Linked DNA regions of Homo sapiens: region 1 is linked to region 2. The links come from fine-mapping of genetic effects on gene expression. A gene starts in region 2. The other region holds a variant in brackets. All regions are shown on one strand. Distances are from middle to middle.

Evidence for each region.
Region 1: its variant is fine-mapped to the expression of LINC01187 in whole blood (TOPMed, PIP 0.90).

Annotation. Positions count from the first base shown.
Region 1 is chr5:170,235,336-170,240,718 of GRCh38, forward strand. All of the region lies in intron 3 of C5orf58 (chromosome 5 open reading frame 58), which reads left to right. Among named protein-coding and RNA genes, the nearest start is that of C5orf58, 5.0 kb to the left of the region's middle. The variant A/C (reference allele first, on the strand shown) is at 2,542.
Region 2 is chr5:170,196,259-170,201,641 of GRCh38, forward strand. LINC01187 (long intergenic non-protein coding RNA 1187) reads right to left here and starts at 2,883. Exons shown (of 5, transcript NR_108022.1): 1 at 2,484-2,883; 2 at 1,494-1,571; 3 at 226-373.

The DNA of each region.
Region 1 (5,383 bases), 39 kb after region 2:
CCCTTCAACACACCATTCAAGACTATGTCACATTCAGCAAAATTCATTGTCTTTATAAATTCTTACTAAGCCCCTAAGGTCCATTCCAAATTAAAAAGTATAAATTAGATTCTGTGACTTAAAGCTTCTTCATTTTAAACAGATTCATATAGTAGGATTAGACCTTATAGGTCATGATGTTTAGTCGCTCACCTCACAGACATATTCAGTTATTTTATCCCAAGAAAATTTCTGTGATTGAATATTTCTAGGGATAATCTATCCCTGACCAAACATTTCTTATGCTGGGGAACTTCCTGTCTCACTAGTCAATCCATTCTATTTTAAACAATTCCTTCTCACCAGCTAGCTGAAATCTGTTCCCCTATTGCTTTCACCTAAGAGTCCTATTTCTAACCATGAAAACTACACTGAATATGTAGTTATTCTTTTTAAAACAACTCTTGGGTATTTAAAGATAACCTGTGTCAGTTATGAGGCCTACATCTATAAGTAACAAAAAAACCAACTTAACTTATACAATAAGGAAAAACAAGAAGATCCAAGGTAGCAGAGCCCTAAAGTTAATTCAGAGGTTTAAAGATTTTGTCAGGGACCAGGCTCTTTCCATCTTTCTGCTCTGTCATGTTCACTCTCTTTATTACCCCTCATGATCATTACCTTCAGAGGTGCTCATATATAGACAGTCTCTTTTTATAAGTCTCCTCCCAGATCCCTCCAGCACAGTTCCCTTTCATTGGCCAGATTTGCATCACATGCTGATGCTTACAGCAGCCACAGCTAAGGGGACTGGGACTGCCAAGACCAGTTTGGACCACTCAGAACTTACTACAGGAGCTGGGGAAAGGAACACCTCAAACAAAATCAAGCTGTGACTCCAAGAAGAAGAGGGCATGGCCGTTCGTTAGGCACCAAATAATGAGTGCCTAATATGCTTTTTCCATGTGTTCTCCCTAGGACAGCATTTCCTGGACTTTGATCTGTGAACCCTGCTGTTTCAAGCAATGTTAATAGATGGTGTACAGTAGAACAGAGTCAATGTTCTTATGGCCAAATAAGTTTGGAAAGTGCTTTATGCTACATATTTCACAAATTTACAGTACATATTAAGAAATCTGACTACCTTTAATTCATCATTTCTCAAAACCAGCTTCAACACCACAGTGAAGATTCTCCTTCTAAAATGCGAATCTGCAGAAAACCCTCATTGGCTCACCATTGTCCTCAGGATAAAGTCTAAACATCTTAGAATGGACTATATGACCTGCTCAGATCATTCCCCTCCTTTCCCCTCTAGTCTCTTACTCTGTTCTTACTGCATGTTCTATGCTCCAGCTGTACTGAACTATTTGCATATCTCCACAAGTGCTTTTCTGTATCTGTTTCAACACATACTTGTCTGTCTGAAATCCCATTGCTATACCCTACCTCCAACACACCAGGTTAACTGCTAGTAGTCAAGGTCTCTTACAATGGAAAACTTTTTTTGAGCCAGCATGTTATCCTTTCTGCCTTTTGCTATCACCTGTTATACTATTTTATAATTGCATATTTCCTTACTTTTCTTATCCCTGCTCAACTGTAAGCTCCTTATGGGTATTTCTAGTACTTAACACGGTGCCTTGATTGATTCGATTCTTAAAAAATTTTTATTAAATGAATAAATGGTTCTGGATGCTTGAACTCATTTAAAACAGTTAAGAAGCTTTAGATTCCCCCCAAACTTGATTATCTAATTGTTCTAGTTTGGAGAATATTCTTTCATAAAATAAAATGTAATAACTATGTGATAGATGTTTTCTTGAGACATTGTATGGGTAGGTCAGGCAGTTAGACTCTGAGGGACCTGTAGAGCTACGCTAGGAAGGTAGACTTCTGGTAAATGTAGAGGATTAAATGAACACTCTGTGCACCCTCACTTCCTCCCCTAAATAGTAATGTCAGCAGCCAACCTTTACAGAATTTACCATAATCCAGGACTCTTCTAAGAGCTCTGCATAAATGAACTCTCTTCATCATAATCCTATGAGGTAGGAACTATTGCCATTGGCATTTACAGATGTGTAAATAGAGAGATTTAACTTTTTCAAGGTCAAGCAACTAGTCAGTGGTACACCTGAGATTTAAATTTAAGTGATTTTTAAAGAGACAAAAATCCACAAGTAAAGAGATTCCAAGAAGAGATAACAAAACAAAAGGCAAATGGAGAAGCAAATAGACAAGTCTGAACCCCAAAGCCCAAAAATCTGAACCCTAAGCTGGCTGGGTAAAGCCAAAAATAGCCCCTACGACTCAATTCATGGTGGCACCAGGATCTTCTGGAAGTAGGGGTGAAATTTGGATAATAGGAAGACTAGTTAAATATATAAGAATTGTAGATCCCTGAGGTCTCTTCTGCCCTCTGCATAGCTGGGCAGCTATCCCTTCACTGTGACAAAAGACTTGAGGTTAAAACAAGGATATTTGCCCTGGAACCACTAGTCATAGGTTGAGGGAAAGTAGTATACTGTAAAGAAGGACACTGAAACAAAGTTTACTTAC[A/C]AAATTACAAGACCCCCAGTTTTTTTTCCTTCACTGGGCTACCAAAATACTGGCAGCCAGATTTATACCCACCAAGTAGATTTTTCTCTCAGGAATCTGACCAGCCTAAGATAAAAGATCTAAAGATACTAATAGCAGAGGTTCTCCCAACAAAATAACCCAGCCAGAACACCCCACATTATTGAGTACCACAGGTGCAGAACTTCCAATTGTCTTTTTAGTGTCACAGTCTTAAATATGGGCAACTAAGGCACAACAGATACTTGAGGGACAAATCTAATATTAAAAAGCAGAGAAAAAATCAACAGATTCAATGAGGAAGAAACAAATAATGAGGGGAGATGAAAATTTCAAGAAATTATTAATATTCAGAGAGAAGAGAAGATACTGTATCCATGAAAAAGGAACTACATACTATAAAAAATATTCAGAGAACAAGAAGGAGCTCTTGGAAATTAAAAATGTGACCATAGACATGAAAAACTCGATAGAAGGGTTGAAAGGTAAAATGAAGAAATTCCTCTAGAGTGTAAACAAAACAAAAGAGATGGAAAGTGTTGGTGATGGGGAGGAAAAGGATTAGGTAAGTGAAGGAAGTCCAACATCCAACAAATAAGAGTGTTAGAAAGAGAGAACATACACAAGGAATGAAGGGCAATTCATTAAAGAAATAAAGAAAACTTCCTAGAGTTGAAGGGCATTTGTTTCTACAATGAAAGAGTCCACCACAGTGCATGAAAATAGGCTCATACCAAGGCAGAATGTTGTGAAATTTCAGTCTACTGAGAGAACAAAAAGATCTGTAAAGCTTCTGAAAACAAAACAATCATATGAAAGTTCTCATATGACTCCAGCTTCACTGGAACCTAGAAGACAATGCAGCAGTGCCTTTGGAAATCTGAAAAAAATATGATTTCCAACCTAGATTTCTATAGCTAGTCAACCTAATTAAGGATTAGTGTAGATAAATTTTCAGACATATAATTTTATTCCCTCTGGAAGTTACTGAGCCTATATGTCACCAAACAAGGGAACAGATCAAAAAGAGAGACACAGGAATCTGGGGAAAAGGGCACTCCACAGAATGGAGGGATAAAAGGAGTCTCTAGGATATTAGTGAAGGGAGTTCCCAAGATACCAGCTGTACAGCAGTGCTAGTAAGCAATCAGTTCAGATTGGAGCAAATCAGAAGGCTCCAGGAGAGGAGAGACGTTTAACAATAGAATAGCTAAGGTGTTGAATAACCCAAGAGCAAATTTACTCAATTGGGGGACATTTAGGATATATTTCTGATAATGCAGCAATGCAAAAACCCAATTATTACCTCTGGTGGGTTGCGTGCAGGAAGGAAAATGTCATATGACAAGACTCAGCTATGAAGAATATTTGTATAATTAACATTTAAACATTAGATAATTGAGCTAAGCAAAAATTTTTCCTGAAGTATATTGGGAGAGAAGAGGGTGTGTGAAAGAGCTGTATCTTAATCTTCTGTGTCAGAGGCAGGTAACACTGAAAATTGAAAAAAAAAAAATCAAATCTCAAAAAATTTAAAGTTACAGAGGTAAACACCACCCCACCACTCCCCACAATAAAAATACTCAAAACAGACACACTGAAATGACCAAAGCAACAAAAACAAAGTGAGCTATAAAAAAAAAAAATTAAAATGGTTGCCTCTGGGAGATTGGAACTGCAGTTTTTTTGTAACATGCCTTAGACTTATCTGATTCTTGGTACTATATGCATGTATAACATAGATAAAAATAAGTTAAAACCATATAAATCAAATTTGTATAAATCAAGTTGCAGTTTAGTGATATAGCCGAGAAGTTGGGCTAAAGAGCACCCTTTTAGTAAGTTTTTATGTCATGCTTATTTTGTAATAACATAAATCTTATTTTTTTTTTAATTATACTTTAAGTTTTAGGGTACATGTGCACATTGTGCAGGTTAGTTACATATGTATACATGTGCCATGCTGGTGCGCTGCACCCACTAACTCGTCATCTAGCATTATGTGTATCTCCCAATGCTATCCCTCCCCCGTCCCCCCACCCCACCACAGTTCCCAGAGTGTGATATTCCCCTTCCTGTGTCCATGTGATCTCATTGTTCAATTCCCACCTATAAGTGAGAATATGCGGTGTTTGGTTTTTTGTTCTTGCGATAGTTTACTGAGAATGATGATTTCCAATTTCATCCATGTCCCTACAAAGGACATGAACTCATCATTTTTTATGGCTGCATAGTATTCCATGGTGTATATGTGCCACATTTTCTTAATCCAGTCTATCACTGTTGGACATTTGGGTTGGTTCCAAGTCTTTGCTATTGTGAATAATGCCGCAGTAAACATACGTGTGCATGTGTCTTTATAGCAGCATGATTTATAGTCCTTTGGGTATATACCCAGTAATGGGATGGCTGGGTCAAATGGTATTTCTAGTTCTAGATCCCTGAGGAATCGCCACACTGACTTCCACAATGGTTGAACTAGTTTACAGTCCCACCAACAGTGTAAAAGTGTTCCTATTTCTCCACATCCTCTCCAGCACCTGTTGTTTCCTGACTTTTTAATGATTGCCTTTCTAACTGGTGTGAGATGGTATCTCATTGTGGTTTTGATTTGCATTTCTCTGATGGCCAGTGATGATGAGCATTTTTTCATGTGTTTTTGGCTGCATAAATGTCTTCTTTTGAGAAGTGTCTGTTCATGTCCTTCGCCCACTTTTTGATGGGGTTGTTTGTTTTTTTCTTGTAAATTTGTTTGAGTTCACTGTAGATTCTGGATATTAGCCCTTTGTCAGATGAGTAGGTTGTGAAAATTTTCTCCCATTTT
Region 2 (5,383 bases):
CCCTGCCAGCACCAGGCTCACCCATGTTTGGCTTTTGCATTCTGTGCTTCCTAATCCCATTTCTGGGGCTTAATTATGATTACACAGCTTTATTATGTAGAATTGATTTTAAGTAATGGCCCTAATTAAGAGTGAATTTTAATTAAGCTTAATTCAGAGCCTGCCTCCGATTGCCAAAGATTTGCAGCCTGAGAAGAGGAAAGGCTGCCCGTGCACAAAACTCACACGTGACTTTGATCTTCATGCTGCTGGACTGTTGCAGCCAGATGGGTTTGTACTATTTTCTGGCCTCAGGGTGCATTTCTTCACCAGGGTGCAGGAGGTATCAGCTCTAGTCCATCTTCCCCTTCCATGCAGAAGCAAACTCGGAGCGCTGGCAATAAACAGAAGTGGGGATCCTGCACCTTTGGGGTGAATATCAACTACACCACCCACCCTGTTGTAGAAAATGAAGCTCATTTGCTTCCTTCCAACTGCTCATGAAACCTGTTCCACAGGTGAGAAAACTAAAGCTCAAGAAGGCCACGGCACACACAGGCAGCGAGGGCAGCAGGAAGATTGGAAATCAGCTCTGCTCCCAATGCCTGTGCCCACTCTGTTCCAACACAGCCTTCCAGTAAGTGGCAATCATCTCTGACTTTGGCAGAAACCAACCTGCTTGAATTTCCTGCCTGCCCACCTAAGCCACTGCTTCCCCAACTTTAGAAGCTCATACGCTGTGAAGGTGGGTCTTTTATGTAAGAGTGAAAAACATCTCAAACCAACTTGTTTTCAAACGAAAATTTTTTCCTACCTTTAAAACTGCTATAAAGCAAAAGTTGTCATAAAAATGTTAAAAAGGAAATAAAACAATGTGATTAAATCCAAATCAGAAACTATTACCTTCTAAAGCCCTAGGAGTAAGGCTTGATCTGCCTGACTTTAAAAAACAGAGATGAGAAGATAGTTCGACCACAACAGCACCAAACTGAGACTTTGTCCCTAACATAATCGGAAAGACCGAAAAAGAGTTGGGAGGACATTGTGTTGCTCCGTGATACAGTGTTATTTAAAGTCGTGTCCAGGTGTCAGCTAAAATCGACTCTCCTTTGTCCAACATTTTCACGGACACTGATCCAAACCAATTTAGCACAGGTTTCCAGGGACCTCTGGGTAATAATGCCCCTCAGCTGCCCTACAGATGACAAGATTCTGGACAGAAACCCAGCTCCCCTAACCCACAGCCCTGGCCCAAGGACAAGATATGGGCATTCCTTTGGTGTTTCAAATAAAAACACAGTGAAATCAATATGTTCTCCAAGACCGGCTGGTGGAGGCTGTTCACCTGCGGAGAAGGGGCCTGGTCATCCGGTTCCTGAATGCCTTTGCCACACTAGAATGTTTTATGGTTCTAAAGTTCCCACCTTAGAAAATCACCCACTAAGAAGCCAAGCTCTGAAAACGTTTTGATTTTTCTAGAGGGAAATGGAAAGTGAAAAATGGAATTCAATTACCTTGAAAAGGGGCAATTTCACTCACAACTGTTACACTTAAAAGCTCCATATGAAACAGGCATTCAAATAAGTCTCAGCCTAAGTTAAAAGAAAAAGGGGAAAAAGAAAATCATGTATTAATCCTCTTCCCTCTACTCCTTCTGACCTAGTGAGTCTTCCTTAGACTCAAAAAAGATAGATGGACTTGAAACACGATTAAATAAGCATGTTAGGACTTTAATAATCCAAGCCGCAGGAGTTTCTATTAAAAGTTGGGTATTTAGAAGAACCATTTGGTTAACCAGTCTAGTGACACAGAAACCACCATGTGAGGGAGGCTCTTCTGAGCAGAGCTGAAGCAGGGACTCCCTGCTTTTCTCTCAGAGATTTGGGGGTAAAGTTACCATCAGACCCTTCAGTTCAGCTGAAAACTCTGAGATGCCCAATACACTCCCATTTTCTACTTCAAGGAAACTTCACTAAAACAGAGGAAAAGATAATAGCCTTGATTGAAATAGAAAGGCGTTACAGAAACTGACACCAAACAACACAACAGACATCATCATCCCATCATAACCATGACGCGCTCATTCTTTCTTTACATCTTCATTCCTGCTAGGTCAAGGCAAGCCGTAGAAGTGGTTTTGTGACCACCATGATGGTTTCCCAAGGCAAATTTAGACAGCATATTTTCTCCTACCACAAAAAACTCCAGCCAGACTCTCCAGTGGTTGAATTCCTATTCCTCAAGTTACCAGCTGTGGAACTCTGTGCCTCAGTTTCCCCATCTGTAAAATGGAGATAACAGTAGCATCTACCTCATAAGATTGCTGTAAATATTAAATGAGATAGTGCTTAGCACAATGCATGGCACATAGCAAGCACTTGGTGGCCGATCAATGGCAAATACGAACACTGGCTCGAGCTTACTGCCATGGTTTATCTTAGCAGCTCCTGACTTGCCTGTTGAGAAAAAATGCTCCTAAACTCAGAAGTATTCAGAAAACCTACAGCAAGGTGGTGAGAGACTAGACTCTTCAAACCTCTGAGGTGCTTTTCTGTCCTCATTCCAGTTTTCTGCCCATCACATTGGCCAAAGAGCTCTAGCCAGAGTTGAAGCCAGTGCTGATCACTTTCCTGACAACCTGGCTGGCAGAGATGGGACCGTATGTAGCACAGGGAAGAGGTGTGTTTTCAGACAGCTTCCTCTCGGAAATCCATTTTGACTGTAGATCCAAAGAAAATCCTTCCAGGCTTCTTGTGCACACGCCAAAACCTGCACACATGTATGCATTTCTTCCTCTCTGTGCATCTCTCCTGCACATCTGGGCAAAAACCAATCTCTGCAGGTAGCATCTTGTGCATATAGCTGTCCGGCCCTATGATAAAATGCATTGTTTCTCTCTGAGTGAAGCTTAATGCACCTCAGCCTGGGGATTTATACTAAGCAATAAAATCCACAGGATAGAGAAATGCAAATAGATTGTAGAATATAATATTATCATTGTCAACATAAAAGACTTTTATTTACTGCCCCCCAAAAGAAAATACACCATAGTGTCGTTTGTTTCAGGGAATGCAAAAAAGGTTTCAACAACTAACAGGGCATGTTTCTGAGCAAAATATACCCCGTATATAATGTTGGAACACATATTGTCAGTGGCCACTCGTGTGTCTGTGTTCTTGCAAACAAACCTGTGGAATTGAGTCATGGAAGGTCACTTCCAGCCACCTCTCTGAGCCACACGGCACCTACCTGGCTCTGTTCACAAACAAACCAGACAATATAGACCTATTTGAAGGGAGAGACCCTCTGAGGCAGGCCACACTCCATCAGCACATCTTAGAATGAGGCATTTGAGTAGTTGCTGACTTGGCTTACTGGGGAATGGAGTTGTGGTGGAGGTTGATTAAACAGATGGTCCATGTTGCTTTGGGCAAAGGGAAAAGTTAAAGAGAAGATGTAGCAGAGCACATGGGAGGTGACAACTCCATCTTTTCTCTAGAAGATATCCCTACAACTCCCCCTTAATGCTCAAGGTCATTCCACCAATGCTTTTGTTGCACAGGGTATTGACAACTTACAAGACCAATTATTTTCACTGATTTGTTTGAATGATAAGTCTGTTGTTTTGTGTAGGGGTTTGGCTATGATATCAGACCCAGTCACAGCAATTGTTTCATTTCTGTCTACAAGGGCAAGATCTAAGTTTATAAGGCTTTAAACAGCCATAATTACCTGAATGACATTTTATGTGAAAAATATATTCTAACTGGTTCTCCCAATAGCCCTAGGAAATATACCCTAGGTGTTATTACGGCCAATTTACAGGTGAGAAAACCGAGACTTCAGAGAGGTGAAGCACATTATCCATGGCCACCCAGCCTGTAGGAGGGTGGCTCCAGAGGCCTCAGTCCTGAGCCCGAGCCTGTCCTGCTTAAGCTTACATCAGGAAAGCCCTTACGTGGCCTGTGCTGGGTGCTCTGTCATGGGGACATCTCACAGGTTTGGTAGGTTTTATCACTCCTATTTTACAGGTGAGGAAACTGATACTTAAAAGAGGAAAAGTGTCTGCCCAAGTCACACAGATGTATATAGCTTGACTGGATTCGAACCTAAGTCCTGACTCCACCGGCTGTGTGGTATAAAAGGAGAGCTTGAAGGTGTCATCATTATCCCCTTTACAGGCCACCACAACCCCTATCACTGAGGGAGTTTTATAAGTTTCAGCAACCACATCAGTAATCTCATTTTGCATCCACAAATTTCTATTTTGTCCTTGCAGCTCACTTGGACAGGGAATGTCCCGCATGTTTGAAAAGATGGTTCAGAAAGGAGCCTTTGGCAATCCCCAGGGTTTCTGCACCCAAGATGGACTGGAGGGATCATGACAACCAGTTGCAATCAAAGAAAAGAGGAAACCATATCCGAGAGTGGAAGCTGTTTTCTTGCTTTCAGGGATCAAATGTCATGACCCCCCAACTCAGTCCTAATGCATCCTCCACAGACATACTCTTGAGCTCTCACAATCCACCCTTCAAGTCATGATGGGGCTCAAGACCTTCACTGGGCTTCATTATCACAGAGCAAACAGGGTGAAGAGGACTCATTTATTGAAGCAACAGATATTGGTGACCAATGAAATTGATGACCACCATGACCTAGGCTGGGCATTCAGTGGAGAGTAACACAGGCAACTTCCCTGACATCTGGGGCTTACAGATAATGGAGGAAACACAAAAGAATCAGATAAACAGATAGGCCAGACCAGAGAGTGCTAAGCAGACATTAAAACAAGGAAGTCAACATCAAATGCAGAGCCCAGAGAAGCCTTCCTTGGAGAGGTGACACTGAGCTGAGGCCCGACTTGCCCTGGAAAGACCTTGGGACACATTCCAGGAGGGAGGGTGCTGAGCCCTGGAGAGCTCTGTTTTGGGCAGTCACTCTCATCAGAGTTTCCATGATGACACAAAGGTCACATGGATGCCCACAGTCTAATTTCAATCAACAATGAATCATGGCCACTCTGGGCACACCAGCACCCCACTCCCCAAACCTCCACCACACCCACCACACCTACAAGGGCCGTTTGTTTGACCAACAGAGAAAAGATTATTCCAAAATACACTTGGTAAAAACATCCATGGGGAGGGTGAAGTTTCTGGTTTCCCCTTTAAAGAGCTATCATCTTTGGATGTTCAGAGCTTCTCACATGATAGCACCTCCTGTAAGGGTTTTGCCCCTGTAGTTAATGTTCAGAAAGTGTGTATTTCCCTTTTGAGAATTCTGTATGAAAGGGACACTGATAAGGGAAATGGAGGCCTTATTGCTAAGAAGCTAGTCAGCATTTGCAAGAGGAAGGGGAACTAGCATTGACTGCACACTTCCATGCACCAGCGTTGAGCTGGAT